Homo sapiens: one gene and its partner. The protein of the gene in region 1 interacts with the protein of each later gene in a pairwise test. Each region holds a gene or a part of one and is shown in the gene's direction. Other genes may lie near its edges.

Evidence for each region.
Region 2: the proteins of FHL2 (region 1) and POU6F2 interact in binary tests that used the Homo sapiens proteins (3 or more experiments, as listed by UniProt).

Annotation. Positions count from the first base shown.
Region 1 is NC_000002.12:105,389,052-105,392,551, reverse strand, and holds part of FHL2 (four and a half LIM domains protein 2), read left to right. Parts: intron 1-2,324; exon of another isoform or gene 2,325-2,445; intron 2,446-3,500. UniProt on the Homo sapiens protein: May function as a molecular transmitter linking various signaling pathways to transcriptional regulation. Negatively regulates the transcriptional repressor E4F1 and may function in cell growth.
Region 2 is NC_000007.14:38,980,909-38,984,408, forward strand, and holds part of POU6F2 (POU domain, class 6, transcription factor 2), read left to right. Parts: exon of another isoform or gene 1-598; intron 599-3,341; exon of another isoform or gene 3,342-3,497; intron 3,498-3,500. UniProt on the Homo sapiens protein: Probable transcription factor likely to be involved in early steps in the differentiation of amacrine and ganglion cells. Recognizes and binds to the DNA sequence 5'-ATGCAAAT-3'. Isoform 1 does not bind DNA.

The DNA of each region.
Region 1 (3,500 bases):
TGTTGCTCCCTGGCCCTCTGAACCTTTATTCTTACATCCTTTTTATTTCTTTTTCTTTTTTTTCTTTGGAGACATGGTCTGTGTCACCATGAGGCTGTTTCCTTGAGGCTGGAGAGCAGTGATGCTATCATGGCTCACTGCAGCCTCGACCTCCTGGGCTCAAGATCCTCCCACCTCAGCCTCCTGAGTAGTAGGGACTACAAATGCATGCCACCACACCCGGCAAATTTTTTGTGTTTTTTGTAGAGATGGGGTTTCTCCATGTTGCCCAGGCTGGTCTTGAACTACAGGGCTCAAACGATATGTCTGCCTCGGTCTCCCAAAGTACTGGGACTACAGGCATGAGCCTCTGTACCCGACCTATTCTTACATCTGAGTCAAAGCTGGGCTAGCGAGAGACTCAGAGATCAAAGCCTTCCCTGGGCCATCCCCAGACCTCCGAGCTGCACCTGGCACCTGCCTCACCCATTGCAGTTCCCTTGGCCTGGAGTCAAGCCTGTACCCTAAGATCCAGCTTTTTCAAATACCCTATTCAGGGCCGAAGGGGTAATGACATCATGGAATGATTTAGCTTGGTGAGGAATAAGAACTCCAGGAAACTGTGATTTGGAATTTGATTCAGTGAAATAAAAAGGAGGGGTTGCGCCTTATGTTTGGGCATCTCCCTGCAGGCTGTTGCCTGATGCTTTCAGCATTCCTGTGTACCAGCTAAGGAGCAGGAATTATTGATAACCTGTCAGGAGGGATGTGGAGTTCACAGAGAGTAAATGGATTGTACACAATTAGGTTAATAAGTCCTTGTAGAACCAAGATGTCCTACTTTTATTTGAAGAAATCATTCAGAAATGGGCTCTGATACCCTGATACATTTTTTAGGAGTCATTGCCCCCTGTCTTGCATAGTAAAGGCAGGCTTCCATGCAGTAAACTTTCACTGGGCTGTCCGTTTCTCCACTGCCTGCGAGGCATACCCAAGTCCATGAACAAGGCATCCAGGCCCTCATTGCCTTGGCTGTTGACTGGGTCTTCCATCTTCCTGGGCTCTCTGCCTACCCTACTCTGTCTCTCATGTCTCTGGCTTTGCCTACTCCACCCCTTGACCTGACCTGCCATATCACCTGGCTGACCTGTTCCTAGCACAGATAGCATCTCCTCTGGGATGCCTGCCTGCTCTCTCAGGGGCTCCTCCTCTGCGTGCCCATCATACCTGTGCACCTCCAGCACGCACTGAGTAAGGGGCTTGGTAGTCTGTTTGGTATATATCTCTTTTCCTCACTAGATAACAAGTCCCTTGAGGGGAGGGGCCTGCATTTTATTCATCTTTGTATCTTCTGCACTTTTCATGACTTTAGACACATAGTTCCAGCTCAACCAATGTTTATTCAGTGAATGAATGAGCAATCAGGTATTTATGGGATGTAAAAAATGCAAGTGGCTCATGACTGTAATCCTAGCACTTTAGGAGGCCAAGGCAGGCGGATCACCTGAGGTCAGGAGTTTGAGACCAGTCTGGCCAACATGGTGAAACTCCGTCTCTACTAAAAAAAAAAAAATACACATACACACACACACATACACACACACACAAATTAGCTGAGTGTGGTGGCGTGTGCCCGTAATCCCAGCAACCCAGGAGGCTGAGGCAGGAGAATCACTGAAACCCGGGAGGTGGAGGCTGCAGTGAGCTGAGATCATGCCACTGCACTCCAGCCTGGGTGACACAGCAAGACTCTGTCTCAAAAAAAAAAAAAAAATGCAAGTTATAGGAGATTTCTAATACAGGACAATAGGTATACTTTTAAACATGTTGTAATAGAAGGGAAGCTCTGAGCTTGCTTATTAGCTCATGGACTTTTTATTCTGATGCTCAGGGCTTGTGCAGTATGTAACTGTGTGGAACTCCTTCAGGGGCCTGCTTTCACACAGTGCATCCTGCTGTGCTCCTAGGTAGCAGCAGTTGCTCATTTTATGCTCTGCCCTGTTGGTTGGAGTAGAAATGCTCTCTGCTCTTTGTAGAACTCTAGTGTCCTCTTAGAAGATGAGGAACAAGGTAGAAGAGGGATCCACCACTCTCAGAAAGAATTCTGTAGAATTAGGAGCTGAACCACAGGGCCAAGTGCCTCCTCCCAGGTGGACCCACTGAGCAGATAGCAGCTGCTACTGTTCCTGCTGGGAGCTGGTATCACTGATAATGATATTCATCATATCACTGATGATGACATTCACCATGATGACATTCATAACCTCAGTCGTACTTTGAGCAAATGTGGAGCCCTACTTATTTTCAGAGTTTATTCTCTTAGATTTATTTTTTTATTTTTTTAGACGGAGTCTCGCTTTGTCGCCCAGGCTGGAGTGCAGTGGCACGATCTCAGCTCACTGCAAGCTCTACCTCTTGGTTCACGCCATTCTCCTGCCCCAGCCTCCCAAGTAGCTGGGACTACAGGTGCCCGCCACCACACCCGGATAATTTTTTTTTTGTATTTTTAGTAGAGATGGGGTTTCACCGTGTTAGCCAGGATGGTCTCAATCTCCTGACCTCGTGTTTCACCCGCCTCAGCCTCCCAAAGTGCTGGGATTACAGGCGTGAGCCACCGCACCTGGCCAGATTTTTTTTGTTTTTGTTTTTTTCTGTCCTGGTCCTGTAGAATCAGAGGAAGTGGAAAACACATATCAGGTATATGAGCACCGTGATCACGATTATTACCTCAGAGGAAAACAGGTGTACCCCTTTCACCAGCTGCCAACATAAATGGAGCTCTGCAGACATTAACAGAGGCTGTAGACTGTCTCCCTTCCCTAGCAGGGCTGGTGCTTGTCCTGACCCACACAGACGGCCTTTCAAGTTAGACTGGGAGTTCATTTTCTGTAAGTCAGACGGCTATTTGAGAAAGCTCAGTGGACCCTCTTTTTCATAAATATGCGTGGGCTTCAGTTTTTCCATCCATAGAATGAGGAAGTTGTCATAGATAATCTGGGGATTTGTTTCCAGCTTTTACAATTCCGCAATTTATAGTTCTCTGTCCTTTCATCGTTCTTATTTCAAATTCCCAAATTATTATTCTTATGTTTGTGGGCATGGAATGGGCAGTGAGCCTCTTGTCCCACAGCTAAATCACACCCTTTATTGGAAAAACATATATGTTGGAAAAACAGCTCTCAATTGTGATGAAATAAATGACAGCAACTTTCAAGGCCAATAACTGAACAATTACAGGAAAGCATTGAATCTTGTGCCAGCATGGCTGCTCCAACTCGAGATGGCTGCGGTACAAAGGATATTTATACGTTGGGCTTCAGAATAATAATTCAAGTGCTCAAGAGCCTCATCTTGTGATGTTATCACAAGAATGTCCAGACAATGTTTTCTTTAACTCCAGGAAGAGTGATTTAGAAGGACGGATCTTGCCGCATGTGTCCAGCTGCATATTTATTGCTCTTGGAAGAGAATTATTCTGTAAACACAGAAATATCCAAGAATGAATTCTTGAAAGATGATCT
Region 2 (3,500 bases), on another chromosome or scaffold:
GGACACAGCGCTGGCTTCACAGAGTAGAAATTGCTCATATATGCCTTTCCCCTAGGATTTCTCCTCCCCCAAGCAAGCAATTAAGCAGTCTAGTACTTGGAAGAACAAACTCCCTGCCTAGTATATCAAGATGAAGAAACTTGGTTCATTCACACAATTTTTGGAAATCAAATCAGATTTCTGATAGCAATTACCTGTAGTTAGCTTCCTAACCCCTTGAAGGTAGGATGGATTGTTATTCATGGGATGATTTTCAATTCAATTCAATTACACAGTTAATCAGTTTCTGATCGTTGGTTTGATTATCATTTAGAAATGAAGACTTGCATTTCCATCTCTTATGGCCATGTTTAGTGCTTCGTTTCTTTTTTTTGCAGACCTGAGCTTGTGAGTGACAGATTAGTTCATCAGTACTGCGGACCTCCTGTTTTTGTTTTTTCTCATCTCATACAGTCGGGTCACTGTGTCCAATACTCCTTCTGGCACTGCTGTCCCCAGAGGACTTAGGCAGCCCACCATCCTGATGCACAGGCCTGAGGGTCCCTGTTGGCTTCACGTCTATAGACTGACTTTTGCAAATATTGCAGAACAGAGGATATTAAATTAGTTGTTAATAAAAACAACAGATGAACCAAATTAGATGAAAATATTTATCAAGTATATCTAAGAGTTTGCTGGGAGTGAGAGAGAGACAGCTGGATAAAGTGATCATGGATGCACTTCCAGTTGACATTGCTAAAGTACTAGTAGAAGAGAGAAGAGACCACACATTCTATATTTTAATAGCATTAGAAGTGCAGTAAAAAGCTGTTTACAATTTCCCTTACTGGTACAATGGGTCTTTTATTTTTCAAAGTACATTTCGACCATGTGAAGTGTTGTAAAGTTGTACATCAGAAAACTAATGCAAATGTCTCAGACAGTGCTCAGTATGTGTGCATGCATTTGGCTTAACAGTATCTCCATGTATGTTTTCTTATATGGAGATTTTAAAACACACAAATATTTCACCGTTATAGCATCAAAACAATTAATTTTACATAGAGGTTTGTTTATACCATCCCTTGTTCCAAAAAGTATTTAATGTAGATTTAATAATAATTTGCTTACCTAAAATATGCTCAAATTGATGTGTGATGCAAGTGGTCTAGGGAGAGGGGACACTGGCTCTCATAACACATTTGAAGATTGCCCTCTGTCAATTTAGACTGATATTCGTGCCTTACATATAAAAATGAAACACTGGGGCTAACCTAACCCTGTTTTACTCATGTGAAGCATAATTCCCATATACTCTTAAAAAAAGTCATTTTTGTGGGTGTGAATGCCTGTATTTTTGAAACTGACAGATTGCTTCAACAAATTTATGTATTTTGGGAGTGTGAAATTATTACTGCTTTAATTTTATTGAGAATACTTTTTCCCCAAGGTATTATGGATGGATGGTATACTAGAAAAAATACAGATTAATTAAGGATTATTCTTTCTTATACATACTGGTGCTAGTATTCTTTTGGTAAGTTCCAGACTGACCAAAATTGAATTTGTACTATGTATTGTTTATTGACCTAAAAAACTTCACTTAATATTTCATTCATACTTATAGGAAAGTCTTATGTTAACATTTTACATTTCACCAGATGGACTTAATTTTTATTATGTTTAGAATTTTTAAAAATTAAAGCAGACATTTAAATGGTAAAGTCAATTTTGTCCATTTAAGTAAAATTTAACAATATAGTAATACTACTATCCAATAATGTTAATACTAAACAACAATTAGATGAACTTGGGTCTTGAAACTAAATTTTCTTTTCTATCTCTAAGGTCAATTAATGAAACTCTCTGTACCATTCAATTATCATTTTCAATGCTTAAGAACTTAAAACTTTTTTATTCTTACCTCTAACATATGCAGAGAGGTGGCTGCAACTTTTAGAATACAAATGCTTACAAAAGAAAGTTTGCATGTAATAAGTTTCCTGCGTGTAAAATCTATAATATTTGTTTCAGAGGTCAGTGAAGGATGTTTCTTCACTGACCTTTTCTTTGCTATGTAAACTGCATATTACCAGTTTCAAGTATTTTTCTCTTTATTGCTTACAAAAATTGGAATATAATTAACATGTCTGCAAATACTGAAAAACTTCACTTTTCAATTGCATTGTGATATTGTACAAGCTGTTACTCTTTTCTAATGCTTGATTGAGTAGAAAATAAAGTTGGGACATAAAGTGCAAACATGAAAGGATCAGACTTGAAGAAACAATGTGCAAAAAGATAAATATTGACTTTAATTTGAACGCTAAAAGAAAATCCAAATTACACAACTTCTAAATTAATTTGTAATTTATGGCCAAATCTTTACTTGGGAGATAATAGCTGCTCTATATATAATCTCAAACCTGGATTTATGTTCTTTTTCCCTTCCCTCCCTCCCTACATCCCTTTCTTCCTTTCTGCTTTTGTTCCTGCCTCCCTCCTTTCTTTTTTTTTTTTTGTAGGTGAAATGTGTATCCAATAAAGTAAATTACCAACTCAAGTTTGCTCTGTTAGCCTATGTAAATTGCTCTGTTGAGCCATATTGTCTTAAACTGATCCAAAATTGTAATCAAGATTTGTACCAGTTTTGCTTTTTACACATTTCTTCTGCATCTCAATTTGAAGAAGCGGTTGCGAGTGAAACACTATCACTACATTTCAGTAAAGATTTATTTTTCTTTTTATTATTTTCTTGTTCTTCCCAGTTCCACAATGTGAGCCAATTGTGGTGAATATTGCTTAATTTTTACTGGAAAAATTCCTTCCTGGTTTTCTGTATGCTTGTGTTATTTTTCCACACCCCACTTATAAATGATCATATTATTGTTATTTCAGGGATAGCACTTCTCATAAACGTAAAACCATTGTATGTAAGTAATAGCAAAATAATTGAAAACATCTTTGATTATTTACATTAAAGGAAATTCTCTAGGTTTTAAAACACTTGTTTTTCAGGTTGGCTGGTCTTCAGAAAATAGCTTTTTGTTTTATCAGTAGCTTTAAAACCCCCATGGTATGAAAGATTCTTTCTTCAAAAGACAGACATTAGCTGTTGATACTTGGCACTGATTCTAGGTGAAATGCAACCCTATTCCTTTCAACAGCACTTTTTTAATTATAAGACAAAAAAAATTGAAGATCAACTGAGTATTCTCACTTTCACCTATTTTCAGCCTTCCCCCGACCCAGGAGGTACATTTTTCCCATGGGAAAAAGTACCCACATAATTTCCAGCACTTCCCTAGTCCTAGGGTCAAAGATGCAAATAAACGTGTTGACACCTTTAATGAAAAGGATATAGTCGCTCAAAAGTATTGCTCTGACATTTTGTTCTCCTTCTTCACTGCCATTTCTCCATCAGCTTTTCTTCTCTTTTCCACTGTGAACCAGAGTCAGTTTGATGAGTAATAAGTGAAAAGCGAAATCTTTGTGGGCTTCCCAGGCAGGAAAGGGCACTG